Linked DNA regions of Homo sapiens. The protein of the gene in region 1 purifies or fractionates together with the protein of each later gene. This does not show direct contact. Each region holds a gene or a part of one and is shown in the gene's direction. Other genes may lie near its edges. The genes, in order: STK11IP, BICRA, DPF3, ARID2 and SS18L1.

Evidence for each region.
Region 2: the proteins of STK11IP (region 1) and BICRA purify together in Homo sapiens (affinity purification with mass spectrometry, with the first as the bait; one large-scale study listed by BioGRID). This does not show direct contact.
Region 3: the proteins of STK11IP (region 1) and DPF3 purify together in Homo sapiens (affinity purification with mass spectrometry, with the first as the bait; one large-scale study listed by BioGRID). This does not show direct contact.
Region 4: the proteins of STK11IP (region 1) and ARID2 purify together in Homo sapiens (affinity purification with mass spectrometry, with the first as the bait; one large-scale study listed by BioGRID). This does not show direct contact.
Region 5: the proteins of STK11IP (region 1) and SS18L1 purify together in Homo sapiens (affinity purification with mass spectrometry, with the first as the bait; one large-scale study listed by BioGRID). This does not show direct contact.

What each region holds. Positions count from the first base shown.
Region 1 is NC_000002.12:219,611,355-219,614,871, forward strand, and holds part of STK11IP (serine/threonine-protein kinase 11-interacting protein), read left to right. Parts: exon of another isoform or gene 1-7; intron 8-249; coding exon 250-480; intron 481-600; coding exon 601-704; intron 705-1,773; coding exon 1,774-1,871; intron 1,872-2,397; coding exon 2,398-2,576; intron 2,577-2,806; coding exon 2,807-2,888; intron 2,889-3,121; coding exon 3,122-3,192; coding exon of another isoform or gene 3,193-3,335; exon of another isoform or gene 3,336-3,517. UniProt on the Homo sapiens protein: May regulate STK11/LKB1 function by controlling its subcellular localization.
Region 2 is NC_000019.10:47,692,617-47,696,133, forward strand, and holds part of BICRA (BRD4-interacting chromatin-remodeling complex-associated protein), read left to right. Parts: intron 1-1,498; coding exon 1,499-2,110; intron 2,111-2,283; coding exon 2,284-2,464; intron 2,465-2,748; coding exon 2,749-2,858; intron 2,859-3,517. UniProt on the Homo sapiens protein: Component of SWI/SNF chromatin remodeling subcomplex GBAF that carries out key enzymatic activities, changing chromatin structure by altering DNA-histone contacts within a nucleosome in an ATP-dependent manner.
Region 3 is NC_000014.9:72,621,590-72,625,106, reverse strand, and holds part of DPF3 (zinc finger protein DPF3), read left to right. Parts: intron 1-3,517. UniProt on the Homo sapiens protein: Belongs to the neuron-specific chromatin remodeling complex (nBAF complex).
Region 4 is NC_000012.12:45,848,196-45,851,712, forward strand, and holds part of ARID2 (AT-rich interactive domain-containing protein 2), read left to right. Parts: intron 1-640; coding exon 641-775; intron 776-1,362; exon of another isoform or gene 1,363-1,384; coding exon 1,385-1,581; intron 1,582-1,840; coding exon 1,841-3,517. UniProt on the Homo sapiens protein: Involved in transcriptional activation and repression of select genes by chromatin remodeling (alteration of DNA-nucleosome topology). Required for the stability of the SWI/SNF chromatin remodeling complex SWI/SNF-B (PBAF).
Region 5 is NC_000020.11:62,150,269-62,153,785, forward strand, and holds part of SS18L1 (calcium-responsive transactivator), read left to right. Parts: intron 1-410; exon of another isoform or gene 411-3,517. UniProt on the Homo sapiens protein: Transcriptional activator which is required for calcium-dependent dendritic growth and branching in cortical neurons. Recruits CREB-binding protein (CREBBP) to nuclear bodies.

The sequences.
Region 1 (3,517 bases):
TTAGAAGGTAGAGTGCACTTTGAGGAGTTTGTGGGCCAGGGTTAGCTCATCCCTCCCTGGGGTGGGGAGTGATCAGTTGGCAGCTGTGCCGGGAGAGGGAGCTGGTGGCCTGGGGCGCGGTGGTTGTGTATGAAGCTGGAGGCTTGGGCTCAGGGGAGACCTGAGCATGGGGAAGGAGCATCGTGAGCATGGTGGGAGTTGTGGCACTGTGGGGGGGGCTCATGGGGACCGTGTCCATCCTCCCTCCAGAATCTCCTGCTGTGTGTCCTAACTGTGGTAGTGACCACGTGGTTCTCCTCGCTGTGTCTCGGGGAACCCCCAACAGGGAGCGGAAACAGGGAGAGCAGTCTCTGGCTCCTTCTCCGTCTGCCAGCCCTGTCTGCCACCCTCCTGGCCATGGTGACCACCTTGACAGGGCCAAGAACAGCCCACCTCAGGCACCGAGCACCCGTGACCATGGTAGTTGGAGCCTCAGTCCCCGTGAGTATAGGCAAAACAAGACATAGATGAGTTTGGGGAAGGGAAGGGGCACTGATGGGGAGGTGGAGATGGAGCCCAGGGGCTGCCATGGGCAGGCTGATGCCCCCTCATTGCCCTCAGCCCCTGAGCGCTGTGGCCTCCGCTCTGTGGACCACCGACTCCGGCTCTTCCTGGATGTTGAGGTGTTCAGCGATGCCCAGGAGGAGTTCCAGTGCTGCCTCAAGGTCTGTGCTCCCTGACACTGCCCATGCCCCCAGCTGTCCAGGGTGCCCACTCGTTTCCATCACAGCCAACTGAGTCAGATCAAGCACTCTAGAGACCTGATCTGGCTTCTGGTTTCAACCCCAGCAGCTTCTTGCTGTGTGGCCGTGGACACATTCCCTGGTATTTGAGTCCCAGTTGTTGCCTGTCTGCAATGGAGATAACGATGCCTCCCTTACACAGTGGCGTGCGTCAGGGCTCATGTTGAAGCTGCCCAGCCCAGCACCTGGCACTCATCAATGGGGCCTCCTAGCATTATTATAAACACATGATGTCGTTAGGCCTTTGTTGAGCACCTGTTGTGCTAGACATTGAGGATCTACAGATCAATCTTGCCCTTGATCTTACAGTCTGGTGTGAGAAGCTGACAATGATTATGCAATATGCAAATGCTGTAATCGGGCTAAGGCCCTTGAAGGGGTGTCTAGTCCAGCTTGAGTGGGTCAAGGAACCTTCCTGGGAGGTGATGTCTAAGCTCAGTCTTGAAGGGTAAGTTAAGGAGTAGGGAGGAAAAGAATGTCTTAGGTAAAGGAAGCCGCAAATGCATGGAGGCCCGAGAGTGTCGCTGGTGGGGAGAACTGCCCAGGATGAGGGCACCTGGACATGCAGGGCGAGGGGCAGGGGTCCTGAGAGGACTCTGGGGGGCCGGCAGGGGCCAGGTCAGGAGCTGCCTCCTGTGTCTGCCAAGGAGTTTGGACTTGTTTCTGAGGGCCACTGGGAGCCACTGAAGGATTTGAAATGGGGCAGTGATGGTCAGTTTTGTGCCTTAGAATAGTTAGTCTGGCGGAGCGTGGAGGGGGTGAGGCGACAGGCAGGGAAGCCAGCTGCTGAGGCTCTGAGCGGGCAGGGGCTGCAAGGCAGAGAGCGGTGGTGGATGAAGAGGCTGTCGAGTGTGAGGGAAGCTCCATAGACTGGTGGGTGGGCAGTGGGAGGGTCAGGCCGAGGGTGCTGTCACCAGGAACTCGGCTTTCAGTCTGGCCCCACCTCCCCAGGCCTCTCATCAGGTTTCTCACCAACTTCCTCTTCCCCCAGGTGCCAGTGGCATTGGCAGGCCACACTGGGGAGTTCATGTGCCTTGTGGTTGTGTCTGACCGCAGGCTGTACCTGTTGAAGGTGACTGGGGAGATGCGGTGAGTGAGAGGGGAGATGCAGTGAGTAAGGGGGGAGATGGGGTGAGTTGGGGGGAGATGGGGGAGTGAGGGGGAAGATGGGGTGAGGGGGGAGATGGGGTGAGTGAGGGGGGAGATGGGGTGTTAAGGGGGGAGATGGGGTGAGTGAGGGGGGAGATGGGGTGAGAGAAGGGGGAGATTGGGTGAGTGAGGGGGAGGTGGGGTGAGTGAGGGGGGAGGTGGGGTGAGTGGGGGGGAGGTGGGGTGAGTGGGGGGGACGTGGGGTGAGTGAAGGGGGAGATGGGGTGAGTGGGGGGCGGAGATGGGGTGAGTGGGGGGCGGAGATGGGGTGAGTGAGGGGGGAGATGGGGTGAGTGAGGGGGAGATGGGGTGAGTGAGGGAGGAGATGGAATGAGGGGGAAGATGGGGTGTGGTGAGCGCACGGGGGTGATGCAGTGAGTGAGGCAGGTGCAGCTGGGGCAGGGCCTCTCTGGGACTCTCACTCCACTCTCATGCTTCTCCATTGCTCTGTCCCCTCTCTCCACAGTGAGCCTCCAGCTAGCTGGCTGCAGCTGACCCTGGCTGTTCCCCTGCAGGATCTGAGTGGCATAGAGCTGGGCCTGGCAGGCCAGAGCCTGCGGCTAGAGTGGGCAGCTGGGGCGGGCCGCTGTGTGCTGCTGCCCCGAGATGCCAGGCATTGCCGGGCCTTCCTAGAGGAGCTCCTTGGTGAGAGAGGGGAGGGGAAGGCAGGAGGGTGGGCAGGAGGGTGGGCAGGGCCTTGGGGCCAGGCTCCCCACCTGGTACCCAGTAGCGGAGACAGAGAGGTAACAGGACTTGTCCCTTGTAGAAGTTTCTGAAATCCAGAAATGTGGAGAATAGGAAGGGATTGAGAGGTGGTGAGTTTAGGCTGGAGGAGAGCAGAGCCTTCTAAAGTTCCCTGGCCTGCCTCTGTCTAGATGTCTTGCAGTCTCTGCCCCCTGCCTGGAGGAACTGTGTCAGTGCCACAGAGGAGGAGGTCACCCCCCAGCACCGGCTCTGGTGAGTCGATAGGAGGCAGAGGCTGGGGTTGCTGCCCAATCCTCTTTCCACAGAGCCCCAGACATGGCCCTGTGCTGAGTAGGTCCTGGGCAGCCACCTGTCCTCATGCCATGCCCCTTATGGGCCCCTAGTGTCTCCTCCCAACCCCCTGCAGGGCTTTCTTCCCACTCCCCTCTCTTCAAGTCCTTCCCACCCGCTAGCTGATCTTCCTGTGCCTGCCATATTCCCTCTAGGCCATTGCTGGAAAAAGACTCATCCTTGGAGGCTCGCCAGTTCTTCTACCTTCGGGCGTTCCTGGTTGAAGGTGAAGCCTCTGTGCAGCTGATGCTTCCCTGGTCTCTGTACCCTACCTTGTCACAGGCACTGGCCCACGCGCAGCACCTGTACAGTGCCCTTGCAGCAACTGTCAGTTCCTGGAACCTGGAGAACCTCTCACTTGAGGGCATAGCTGAGTAACAGCCTCAGTGTGCCCTGACCCTCTGGGTGGGGTTAGGAGGCACCCAGGATCCTCAGTTACCCAGAGCCTTTGCTCTCGGGCCCAGGCTTTCTATGAAGTGGAGCAGCGTGGCTGAGTCGGCCCTGCCTCATCAGTCACAGAAGGAGAGGGTGGAGCCTTGTTTCTGAGTAGG
Region 2 (3,517 bases), on another chromosome or scaffold:
GGAGGCAGTCCCACCAGCCGTACACAGCGCCAAGGACTGCGCCTCTCATCTCTTCTTAGAGGTGGCAAACCTTTTGAAGACTGATTGATTGATTGGTTTGGTTTGGTTCTTTAACTGTCAGAAGTTACTCAGGGCCCAGCTTGGAAGGGATGCTGGAAGGGCCCTGGGACTTAGAGGCCAAAGCTGGTGGTGAATCTGATGTCATGCCGAGATGCCCGGTTCTGGAGTGTGGTGGTGCTGGCTGTCCTCGGGCAGATATCCTGAGCCCTCTGAGCCTGAACTCAGTCAGCTTTGAGAAATGGCTCAGAAGTCACTGAGCAGTGTAAAGGCCTCAGTTCCGCCTTCACCAGCCTGGAGAGTCTGGACCAGTTTTGGAGCCTTGGCCTCAGTTTCTTATCTGTGAAATGGGTCCAGTGTTACCACTGCCCTCAGGGCTAGGGAGAGATCACACAAATGGATGCGGGAGGCCGGCCATTCGTGTTAGATCAGCATGAGCTGTTACTAGGATGCAGATTCTGTGACAGCAAGTATCACGGTGCCAGCCCAGTGTTGGGTGCACAGCTGGTGCCCACTGGTTACACAGTGGCTGCTCTGGTTATGATTCTTTGGGAGGAGGGTCCAGAACGGCAAGGTGCTCCGTCTGAGACATGCTTTAGGCGAGGTGGCTGTGTGCGTGTGACAGAACTAGCACCAGATCGCGTGTGCTTGCAGACACAGGCTTCATCAGAGTCTGGTACGTCGTGCACACGCATGCACGCTTGTACCTGCAAGCTCACGTGGCGCCCAGGTAGGCCTGCAGCCATGGACACACAGGCACACAGAGGCAGGTGCCCAGGACACTTAGAAGGGGGTCCAGGCCTTCCCATGCCCGCATCCAGAGGTCCACACGTGGCTGTGAACCCAGGCCTGTCCCTGTGTGGCCATCCGTATTCTCGGCAGCCCCCGTGCCGTGGCCATCAACCCCGAGCCATGGTACACAGCATCATGCTGGTGTCTCTTTGCCTTGACTTGGCTGGATGGGCTGGTGGGGGCTGGCGGCTGGGACGCTGCCCTGCCTGCCCTCCTTCCCCGCTGCTGTGCTCGCCGCCCGGCCCTCCTGCCTCCTGCTGGGCAGCGGGTGTGGTGCCCCTGCTGCCACCGCCACCACTGCCTCTGCTTCCTCTGCTGCTGCCACCCCAACCCTGCAGGGCTCGCCTTTGTCTGGGGAACTGCGAGGGGTGGGGGGAATGGGGCAGAAGTGGGGTTGAGATCGGAGGCCAGAGAAATGTGGAGGAGCTGCGGTGGGGGACAGAGGTCGAGGGCAGGTGGAGGGGGTGCTGTGGGGAATGAGAGGCGAGGGAGGGAAGGGCAGCCGTGGTGGGCTCCTCTCTCAGGATGGGTGTGGGCTAGGAAGGGGGCTTCTGGCGGGGATGGCTGGGGACCCCAGTGTCTTGGGGCAACAGGAGCTATGGTTGGTTCTGACCCCCGCCCCTCCCCTCTCCCTCCCTCCCCTGCCCAGATCCCGGCAGCGGCTCCGCTGAAGGGCCCAGGCCCCTCTTCGTCCCCGTCACTACCTCACCAGGCCCCTCTGGGGGACAGCCCCCACCTGCCCTCCCCACACCCCACCCGGCCCCCTTCCCGCCCACCCTCCCGGCCACAGAGTGTGTCCCGCCCTCCCTCAGAGCCACCCTTGCACCCTTGCCCCCCACCCCAGGCCCCCCCAACTCTGCCTGGCATCTTTGTCATCCAAAACCAGCTAGGCGTTCCCCCGCCTGCCAGCAACCCGGCCCCTACTGCCCCAGGCCCGCCGCAGCCGCCTCTCCGCCCCCAGTCCCAGCCGCCTGAGGGACCGCTGCCCCCAGCCCCCCACCTCCCTCCATCCTCCACCTCCTCTGCTGTGGCCTCCTCCTCTGAGACGTCCTCCAGGTTGCCAGCCCCTACGCCATCCGACTTCCAGCTCCAGTTCCCACCCAGCCAGGGGCCCCACAAGTCCCCCACTCCCCCTCCAACCCTCCACCTGGTCCCTGAGCCGGCAGCACCCCCCCCACCGCCTCCTCGGACCTTCCAGATGGTGACCACCCCCTTCCCAGCGCTGCCCCAGCCGAAGGCTCTTCTCGAGAGATTTCACCAGGTAACGGGAGGCAGGGACTGCCCGCCCCATCAGCCCCATCCCATCCCACCCTCTCAGTCTGATGGGAGCCCCTCCGCCTTACGGCTCTGTGATCCTCCCCAGCCCTGCTGCGTCTGGACACCCCTACACCTAGCCTATGTTCCCCACCCCTCATCCACCTGTCCCCTCCTCAGGTGCCGTCCGGAATCATCCTCCAGAACAAGGCTGGGGGGGCCCCTGCCGCCCCGCAGACCTCCACCAGCCTGGGGCCCCTCACCAGCCCCGCTGCGTCTGTGCTGGTCAGTGGGCAGGCCCCATCTGGGACCCCCACTGCCCCCAGCCACGCCCCCGCCCCGGCACCCATGGCCGCCACAGGTAGGAGAGAGGTCGCCTATGTGCCCAGGGAGACGGGGCCTGAAGATGGGTGGGCGGGGCTGAGCAGGGAGAATGGGCTGGGGCAGGGCTGTGGGACTCAGCACAGGGCATCAGCCAGAACTCAAGGGACACAGGAAGGCCAGAGGTGGCAGGGCTGGCCCCAGATTTGAAGGGCCGGAGGGCCAGGAGGAGAGCGGTGGGGTACAGGATGGGGCTCCCGTTTGAGGAGGGGGCCTTCATGCAGTGACCGCAGGCCCTGTCTCCCCCACCCCACCCACCCCCAGGCCTCCCTCCTCTGCTTCCAGCCGAGAACAAGGCTTTTGCCAGCAACCTCCCGACCCTGAATGTGGCCAAGGCCGCTTCCTCCGGGCCAGGGAAGCCCTCCGGGCTGCAGGTAAGGGGCCCTTAGAGCAGGGGTCAGGACAGGACCAGGAGTCTTCGGGAACTGGGAACTGGGGCTGGCAGGGGCAGGGAGACACTGGAAGACGCGGACAGGATGAAGCTGGGACCATCAGGCAGCTGAGACACCACGAACAGCCGTGCAGGGACAGGAAGGGCAGAATGACACCCAGACAGGCAGCCAGAGATGAGGGAGAAACACGGAGACGGTGGGACGGAGACGGCACCAAGACTACTGGCAACAGTGTAAGGGACTATGACTGGGGAAAGAGCAGGTGATATGGACACAGGACGGGAAGGACAGGGCTGAGATGACAAGATGTGAGCTCAGGACAGGAAAGGCGGGTTTAGATGAGACAGACCGGAGACGGAGCAGATCAGGGACCGAGAATGAAAGGGTGAGAGGGTGGGGACAGCTGAGGCCGAGGCCACTTGTAGATGTAAGACGTGGGGGAGACAGAAGACAAGGAGAGGAGCAGGTGGGAGGACCAGGACCCAAGAGGCCGGGAGAAGCTCAGAGATGGAGATGCCAGAATGAAGGCCAGACGCTGAGGACAAGAGGGGAAGCCAGGAAGGGAGGCGGGGGGGCGAAACGACAGGAGCCACACTGGGAGAGAGACTGTGCGAGGCAGGGGCACTGGGTGCTGGGCGGTG
Region 3 (3,517 bases), on another chromosome or scaffold:
TATTTACATAATCTCAAATATCCTATTTCTCTTGTTGAGGAGATAATCTCCAAGTATCTCCCCAACAATATTACTTATTAGTATATTACAAAGGGAAAAACAGTAACTTTACAGTGAAAAAAATGGCAGACACTACCTTAACTATATAATCACAGATAACATTACAAGTAATAAGACGTACTGGCCTCAATTTCCCCCGATATGATGCGCCAAGAAGGGCACAACATTACTTTAGTGGTATTCTTGCTAAAAAATGTATGCATATGTGGATCTTATCATGAGAAAAGATCCAACTGAAATTGAGTGACATTTACAAAATCACTGGCTTGGATTTTTTGAAAGTGTCAAGCTCATGAAAGACAAAGAAACTGAGGAACTGTCACAGATTGAAGGATACTGAGAAAACACAACAATTAAATGCAATGAGGGATCTTGGATTGGATCCCTGGTAAAGAGACATAGGTTGGGGGCCGGGCGTGGTGGCTCACGCCTGTAATCCCAGCACTTTGGGAGGCTGAGGCGGGCGGATTACCTGAGGTCAGGCGCTGGAGAACAGCCTGGCCAACTTGGTGAAGCCCTGTCTCTACTAAAAATACAAAAATTAGCCAGGCATGGTGGCACATGCCTGTAATCCCAGTTACTCAGGACGCTGAGGCAGGAGAATTGCTTGAGCCCGGGAGAAGGAGGCTGCAGTGAGCCGAGATGGCACCACTGCACTCCAGTTTGGGCAACAGAGTGAGACTCTGTCTCAGAAAAAAAAAAAAAAAAAAAAAGAGACATAGGTGGGAAAACTGGAGAAATTAAAATAAAGTCTGTAGATTAGTTAACAGTATTACACCAATGGTAATTTTCTGATTTTCGTAATTCTGCTATAGTAATATAATATGTTAATATTAGGGCACAGTGAGTACAATTCTCTGCATAATTTCTGCACTTTTCTCTAAGTTTAAAATTATTTCAAATAAATAAATAAAAATATAGTGTGATGTTTCTCTAGCATCTTCTGAAGGTGACTAAGGTTTTAAAAAATATGTTTATGAACTTAAGATTTTAAACATATTTTATTTGTTATAATCCATTATAGGTAAAATTGTCCCATCTTTGACCAGTGGTAACATATTCAGGTTGGATCCTGAGTCCTTTTGACATAATCCTAATAGTATTTGATAGCTTCCTTACTTTGTAATATGTAAATATATTTATACATTTTATGCTCCAGACCTGGAATCACTTATTTCTCCCAGGACTCCTAATTCCTTTTAGTGGGCAATGGTCTTTAGAGAACATAATATGGGTGCTAGAGGTGCTAATTTTGCTGTTAGTCATTGTTTTGGAGCACTTTCTGTGGACAGAGGTAGAAAATATTTTTTGCTTGTTTTAAAGATACACTACACCATGAATTTATACTGATGCATCCAGTTCATACTTAGAACCAACTACTGACTTTTGACTTAACTTCATTGGCCTACATTTCTATTTTCTTTCAACCATGTTACAAAATCTTGCTCTTCAATAATACCAACATAATTACTCATTTGATGCACATAAAGCAGTCTCAGAATATTGATTCCAATATTTAAACCAATAATATAATTGCTGAACATTACACACACACACACATATATATGCAGATCTGCATTTATGTATGACCTTAAGGTATGTCCTACTAAGGATGTATTGTCAAATTAATTGTTTTATAGTCAGATGGAATAGTTTCTCTCTGTGTGGTTATGCTACCAATTGGATACATAACCAAATTCATTTGCCTCATTTTTCTTTTGTTTTTTTTAGGGACATATTGCTATTTAAATTTTGTTTTATGACTGTGTAAAATATTTATTGGTTCTAAAATCAAATTTATAAAGAAACATTATATTCAAAGAAATGTAGCTCTCTACTTACCTCTTCCACACTATTCCTTCACTCTGCATATAGGCAACCACTAAAAAATATGATTTGTCTTTCCATTTTGTTTAAATGTAAACATGTGTGTGTATATATGAATCCATGAAAAATGGTAACAAGTATATATGTTTTCTCCATCTTGCTTGTTTTCTCTGAATATCTTAGAGATTAATCTGGAGGAATATATAGACATTCTTCATTCCTTCCTACAGCTGCATAATTTTTACTTATCCAACCATTCCCTTATTGATGGACATTTAGGTTGACGCTGGTCTTTGGCTTTACAGATAGTGTAAATGTAGAGGATTTTTTTGTTGACTTGGCAGAGCCTTTGAGGAGGAGTCAGGGGGTGAGGTTGTTGGGGCACTAGGATTCCTCTCACATGGTCAGGGATTTACCCTGGATATCCGAGAATGGGATTCCCATTCTGCTGGAACTGTAGTAATAGGTGATTCCTGGTTCCTGGATAGTTGGTAGTGAGAGGTACTAAAATTGTGTTTGTCATGAGAGTTAGCATAAGCTGGGGGCTCTTGGTGGTGGAAGAGAAGAGAATATGGTGCTAGACAGTGGTCAACCCATGCAAAATGCACTTAAACTCTCAGATGCCTAGTTTTCCTTTGGGAAATTGTAATCCAGGATATTCTACCTATTTGTATTTCCCATGTCACTGCTGTAGTAGGGGTTATTACTGTTTTTAAGGCATTAATAACACTGTTTCTGACAAGTCCTGTCTGTTTTCTGTCTCCATCCTAACTTGTTTCTCCTTGTATTATCCCTAAATCAAATTGTCCTGTAGCTTATGCTGGCTCTGCAATAATGATGTAACTGTTTTGGCGTAAACTACAGTGTGCTCGTCTTCATCCCACCTCTCTGACTGTTCCTTTTCAGTCTTTTTTTCTCTGCCTGTCCTGTAAAGTTGGAGTACCCCAAGTGTACTTCTTCTCAGTAAACTCTTGGCCTTCTTCTCAGTAAACTCTTTTGGGTCCTTGATCTTTCAGAGAATTCAATGAAAGCTACGGACTTACTCTTTCCATAGAAAAATGTACATTTCTACCTATGTACAAAATTGTGTGTATCATTTCAAGGGGTTCATGGACACTTCTCCATGAAGACAAGGTCAAAGACATTTGCTCTCACACATTCTGGGCTTCCTCTCCTAGGACCTTCACTTGCCATCTAATTACAATGAATCCCAAGTCCATATCTCAGGCCCAGACTTCTCTCCTGCTCTCTTCAACAGCCTCCAGGTCATCCCTATCTGTAGAACATGTCTATAGCTGAGGTTGCCCTCTCCCTCCCATGAGTCTGCTCTTCCTCCCATGTCCCATTGGGTGGCTGTATCATCTGGCTTGCTGACCAAGCCACAACCCAGACGGCATCCTTGGCTTCTTCCCTATCACTCTCCCCATCTAATCAATGATGCTTAAATGGGAGCAAGACCCATTTCTTTCTCCATGCCGCAATTGTAATTCAGGCCACCATCATCACGCACCTGGATAGCTATAGCAGCTTCCTAACTGGTCCCCGGGCCTCTTGAATGAACCTCTCCCCCACTGGGTATCTACTCTTACATAGCAGCTAGTAAGATCTTTCTAAACTGCAATCTGATCGT
Region 4 (3,517 bases), on another chromosome or scaffold:
ATCAGGGTAATCAGGCCTCCAATCCCAATTTATAGGTAAAGGTCATTTTAAGAAAAAGACAAAATGAGGTTTGAATTAGTTTGTAATGGATTACAAATTAAAACTGTTTTGAAATGGGGAAATGGGAGTGTGCAGCATGGAAAGTGTCATTGTTTTAGGAAGTAGCTGAAAAGCTTGGATAAGTTTTTTCTGAAGGAATTTGATCCAAGAGCCAAGGAAAGTTTAACCTTAGTTCAGTTTCCCCCCATTTTCTTCAGCTACAATGCAAATAGCACGTAATTGGGAACTTGTTTTATGTTATGATTATTACAAGACAGGATGCCGAATAGATATTCACTAAATAAAACTATTTCTTATAGAACATTTGTTGTCAGCAGACCAACCCTGCTCTCATTGGGATGTGAACATAGTTTTTATATTTGTTGTCAGTGTCATTTTTAATACTAAAATAAGCATGTTAATCTATTGATTTAATCTAAAATTTAGCATATATTTTTGCTACTAACGTATGAGTCAGTGAAATTTGATTAGTAGGTATAATTATTAGTTTTAACACATTGCCTCCACATGGCTTTAGTATATTTAAATATGGAGTTTCCTAGAGTATATTGTATAATGCTTAATTTTTCTCCTCTTTTAGGCTAAATGCTCATTTTGAAGTAAATCCAGATTGTTCTGTTTCTCGAGCAGAAATGTATTCTGAATACCTCTCGACTTGCAGTAAATTAGCTCGTGGTGGAATCCTAACATCAACTGGATTTTATAAATGTCTTAGGTAGGATCCATAGTTCTTTAAATAAAGTCCATTTACGTCACTTACAACATCTCTTGCTCTTTAAAGAAAATACCAAATATCTTATCTAGTTTTAAATATTTCTACTACTAGAAGTTTCGTATGGATAGGTTATAGTGTGGTGGAGGTTTAAATAAAAAGCAGTTTCAGAAATCACATCTAGTGTTTGTGTTGGAACATTATGAGATTTATCAAAGAAATGAAGTTTACTTTCTTTTTCCTACCTACTTTTACATGTTAAAGACATGACTGTATCTTTTTAATCTTGAATAATAGAATATAATATTATTATCTTCAAATACAAAGACTTTTTGATATTTTGCAAAGTACATAAAAATAGGTATCTTTTATTAGTTATATGTGGGTGGAATTGTTTAAAACCCAGCGACATTGTTAATAAATAATGATGTTTTAAATGGGATGATTAATCTTTTATATTTCTTTGCTTTCCATCCTTGCAGAATATAACTGTGAGTCATACTGGTTCATACATAAGCAACAGTAAACATACTGCTGTTGTTCATGTAAACATAATGTTAGAAGTCAATGTGATAGTTATCAAAACTTACTGATTATGTATGTACTTTACAGAACGGTCTTTCCAAATCATACAGTGAAGAGAGTGGAGGATTCCAGTAGCAATGGGCAGGCACATATTCATGTGGTAGGAGTAAAACGGAGGGCTATACCACTTCCCATTCAGATGTACTATCAGCAGCAACCAGTTTCTACTTCTGTTGTTCGTGTTGATTCTGTTCCTGATGTATCTCCTGCTCCTTCACCTGCAGGTGTTAATTTTTATTGTATTTTTAAAGTATTACTGATTTAATAATAAAACTGAATGAAAAATATATATTCTATGCATTTTAAATGTATAACTTTTGTGTCTCCAGTAGCATTTTCTTACTTGGTCTATTACCATATTCATATGATTCAAAATTGTTAGATGTTAATTTCTTAAAACTATTTTCTCTTAAGTAAAATAATTCCTACTTGGGATTTTCAGTCATTTCATTTGGAATTTTGACGTTTTCTTCATATTTTCAGGAATCCCTCATGGATCACAAACCATAGGAAACCATTTTCAGAGGACTCCTGTTGCCAACCAATCTTCAAATCTGACTGCAACACAAATGTCTTTTCCTGTACAAGGTGTTCATACTGTGGCACAAACTGTTTCAAGAATTCCACAAAATCCTTCACCTCATACCCACCAGCAACAAAATGCTCCAGTGACTGTCATTCAAAGTAAAGCTCCAATTCCTTGTGAAGTTGTTAAGGCTACAGTTATCCAGAATTCCATACCCCAGACAGGAGTTCCTGTTAGTATTGCTGTTGGAGGAGGACCTCCACAGAGTTCTGTTGTTCAGAATCATAGTACAGGGCCACAACCTGTTACAGTTGTGAATTCTCAGACATTGCTTCACCATCCATCTGTAATTCCACAGCAGTCTCCATTACACACAGTGGTACCAGGACAGATCCCTTCAGGCACTCCTGTTACAGTAATTCAACAAGCTGTCCCACAGAGTCATATGTTTGGCAGAGTACAGAACATACCAGCATGTACTTCTACAGTTTCACAGGGTCAACAGTTAATCACCACATCACCCCAACCTGTGCAAACTTCATCTCAACAGACATCAGCTGGTAGCCAGTCACAAGATACTGTTATCATAGCACCCCCACAGTATGTAACAACTTCTGCATCCAATATTGTCTCAGCAACTTCAGTACAGAATTTTCAGGTAGCTACAGGACAAATGGTTACTATTGCTGGTGTCCCAAGTCCACAAGCCTCAAGGGTAGGGTTTCAGAACATTGCACCAAAACCTCTCCCTTCTCAGCAAGTTTCATCTACAGTGGTACAGCAGCCTATTCAACAACCACAGCAGCCAACCCAACAAAGCGTAGTGATTGTAAGCCAGCCAGCTCAACAAGGTCAAACTTATGCACCAGCCATTCACCAAATTGTTCTTGCTAATCCAGCAGCTCTTCCAGCTGGTCAGACAGTTCAGCTAACTGGACAACCTAACATAACTCCATCTTCTTCACCATCACCTGTCCCAGCTACTAATAACCAAGTCCCTACTGCCATGTCGTCGTCCTCTACCCCTCAATCACAGGGACCACCTCCTACTGTCAGTCAAATGTTATCTGTGAAAAGGCAGCAACAGCAGCAACATTCACCAGCACCCCCACCACAGCAGGTACAAGTACAAGTTCAGCAGCCCCAACAAGTACAGATGCAAGTTCAACCTCAACAGTCGAATGCAGGAGTTGGTCAGCCTGCCTCTGGTGAGTCGAGTCTGATTAAACAGCTTCTGCTTCCGAAACGTGGTCCTTCAACACCAGGTGGTAAGCTTATTCTCCCAGCTCCACAGATTCCTCCCCCTAATAATGCAAGAGCTCCTAGCCCTCAGGTGGTCTATCAGGTGGCCAGTAACCAAGCCGCAGGTTTTGGAGTGCAGGGGCAAACTCCAGCTCAGCAGCTATTGGTTGGGCAGCAAAATGTTCAGTTGGTCCCAAGTGCAATGCCACCCTCAGGGGGAGTACAAACTGTGCCCATTTCGAACTTACAAATATTGCCAGGTCCACTGATCTCAAATAGCCCAGCAACCATTTTCCAAGGGACTTCTGGCAACCAGGTAACCATAACAGTTGTGCCAAATACGAGTTTTGCACCTGCAACTGTGAGTCAGGGAAATGCAACTCAGCTCATTG
Region 5 (3,517 bases), on another chromosome or scaffold:
TGCTGACCTCGGGGGCAGGGACGGAGCAGCTCAGGCTGGGCTCAGAGGGAAGGACTGCTGATGGGTCAGCGATGTCTGCCCCGAGAACAGGAGTGGCAGGCGCTAGCGCAGGTGCCATCGCTGGCTTAGCCACCTGCTGATGCTCGACCAGCTCTCCGGTTAGCCAGGCTGGTCCCCCTCACACCTTGATGACTCCTAGGAATTGATTCTGCGTCTGTGTCCACGCCATGCGTGGGGAGTGCATGGCAGCCCTGCATGTAGTGGCAGAAGACGGGGAACAATTTCAATGTCTGTCCAAGCAGACAGAGTACTACGTTGTGTCCATGTTGTGGAATTCTCCGGAGCATAAGAAACATTGAGGTGGATTTTTTTTTTTTTTTTTTTTTTTTTTTTTTTTTTTTTGGAGACAGAGTCTTGCTCTTTCGCCCAGGCTGAGGTGCAGTAACGTGATCACAGCTCGTGCAGCCTTGTCCTCCTGGGCTCAAGGGACAGGTGAGGTCTCTATGTGCTGACAGAGGACAGTCTCCAAGATGTTTGAGAGGAAAGGGAGCTGTGTGGAGCAGCGGGAGCGAAACGTTATCAGGTGTGTGCAGAGTCGGGAGGGGAGTGCACAGGCTCCATGCCAGACGCTTCCAGAATCGGCAGAGCTGGCCTCTGGGGAAGAGGAGCCAGGGGTTCCTCCTGCAAAATTAAAAAGGTTCCAAAAGTCTTTGTAATTAGAAAGGACAACCATGAGGACACTGGAGGTCTTCCTGCCCAGTGTGGGCTGAGCCAGCCCCGGCAGTGAGCCTCAGAGCCCCAGGCCTCCTCTGTCTGGCTTCCAGGGCCCCACACAGGTTGTCATTGGGGAGAGACTGTTCTGCTGAGAGCCCCTCACCCAGGTTTTTGCCTGGTAGCCCCAGCCCTTCCCCTACTCTCTGTGGGCTCTGGGACCCCAGTTCTCCGTCCCTGGTTCTCATCCTCACTCCCTCGCCTACCCAGTTAGGACCCCACGGTGGGGCTTCAGCAGCCCCAGACCCCATCCTTGGTGCCTGGCTGTGCCCTGGGCCCTCCAAGCCAAGCCCCGTGTCCCCCGTCAGTCCCCGCTTGCCAAATCCAGTTTCTCTGCTCACCCACATGGTCCATTGCCATGGCCGTGGCTTCCGTGCCCCTTGGGTTTGTCTCCCTGTGGGTGCTGGGCTTGGCCCTGGGCATCAGCCAGCCTGACCAACAGAGACACGTTGGGGCCACCCCTCAGAGCCTGAGACCACAGGGGTGACCACGCAGAGAGGGAGTGGGAGGCCCAGGTGTCCCAGCTGCCCCAGCCACGAGCCCAGCCAAGCCCAGCAGAAGATCCTCCGAACCAGCCCAGAATCATGAGAACTAAGAAATCATGTTTCAACCACGCGGCTCCGGGAGGTTTGTTGCGCATTGGGTAATGGATGCACCCAGCCGCGTTGGGATCTTGGTCCAGCCAGTCTCTGCAGTGAGCACAGGCTTTGGTTGAGAAAGTCACCCCCACAATGGGCACAGGACTCCTGTCCCCCAGCAGCCCCCGTTCCCCTCTTTTCCCGCTCCCCATAGCTGGCCTCCCCCGTTCCCCTCTTTTCCCGCTCCCCAGAGCTGGCCTTCCCCGTTCCCCTCTTTTCCCGATCCCCAGAGCTGGCCTCCCCCGTTCTCCTCTTTTCCCTCTCCCCAGAGCTGGCCTCCCCCGTTCCCCTCTTTTCCCGGTCCCCAGGGCTGGCCTCCCCCGTTCCCCTCTTTTCCCGCTCCCCAGAGCTGGCCTCCATTCCTGGAGATGCCCCGTGGCCTTCACACATGCCTGTTTCCTCCATCGGGCCGCCCTTCCCCCACCTTACCCATGTGCTCCTGCCCAGCCTCCAGCCCAGCTGGACGTCAACCCCAGGAGTCTCCTGGGGCTCCGCTGCCTCATGGCATTGAGCAGATGCATGCCCACGTCGGTCTTCACCCGACTGGCCACCCACGCCCACTCCACCATGAGCAGAGCGGGTCGCACCTCCTCACTGTCGCCTCCACTCACCCAGGCCTAGGATGGGCACATTGATGAAGCATGCTCAGAGATGGGATCTCACCACCCCTCCTTGCTGCGGCCCCCGATGCCAGCCTCTGGCTCCTCCAGATGGAGTTGCCACCTCATCTCTGTCCCCAGCGCCCTCACCTCGGGAGGCCTCAGGCCACCAGCTTCAGTGCTTTCCCGGTGGCGTCTCTGGCGCGGGTTTACCCCTGAACCTGTAGAAACTCGGCCTCTTAGGAAAGGGTGGGGAGAACTGTATCTCACGTTGCAGAAAAATTCACAAGTGCACATCAGGAAGCTGGGAAACAGTGTCTGCAGAAGACAGCAGTAAATACAGAAGATCTAGAACGCTCCAGGCCGCGTGAATGGCTTCTTTGTTCAGCTTAGTGTTAGAGGTACACACCAGGTGGAGGAGACTCAGGTGGGCCCATCACCAGCCCTGGCAACCCCAGACTCACTTCAGGCCTCTTTAAGGTCGCTTTGCAGATGATACCGTGAGTAAATGCTTGTCTTAGAGATTTTCATAAACACAGACACATAAGAAACTACGAATCGACAACCTCCAGAGTGGGGGCCACAGCTGCCTGTCGGTGCATTTCCGTCCTGTCAGGGTCTTTTGCTTTGGATTTTATGCTCACCAAAGCCGCGCGTGCACATCAGGAGTCAAGAAGCACCATGGGCGTGTGTGTTAGTTGTTCTTACACTGCTATGAAGAAATATCTGAGATGGGGTAATTTATAAAGGAAAGAGGCTTAATTAACTCACAGTTCCACAGGGCTGGGGAGGCCTCAGGAAACTTAGAATCATGGCGGAAGGGGAAGCAAGGCACCTTCTTCACAAGGCGGCAGGAAGGAGAAGCGCAAGCAGGGGAGATGCCAGGTGCTTGTAAAACCAACAGATCTCATGCAGACTCACTCACCATCACAAGAACTGCATGGGGGAGACAGCTCCCATCCATCTAATTTCTTCCCACTGGGTTCCTCCCACGACACGTGGGGCTTATGGGAACTACAATTGAAGATGAGATTTGGGTGGGGACACAGACAGACCCTATCAGGGCATGAGTAACCTCAGGAGTAATGCCTCCCACCTCCCAGAGGCGCTGTCTTGCCCTTCTCAAGGCCAAACCAAGTGGCCACTTTGGAATGGGTTTAGGGCTGCTGACCTTACCTGGTGACCAGGGAGAACAGGTCACCCGATAAGGTCTGCCCTCCCCGCTGCACACCTGCGCTCCCCACTCATACCCGTCAGAGTGGCTTTCTCGGGGGTTGGATCTGCCTCTGCTGTTGACGTGGTGATGATAAACACCTTGCTCACTGCTGAACCACGCAGGACCGTGTGACTGCTTTTCCTGCCTGGCTTTTGTTTTCCCTGGAGTTGTTGATTGTTTTTCTTTTCAATCACTTGTCACTAGTGTATCTCCTCCTTTGCTCAGGTATTCTTCCGGGTTTCAGTCTCGGGGCTGCTCTCCGTGGGTCTCCCACCATTGGCCGAATTCCTTTG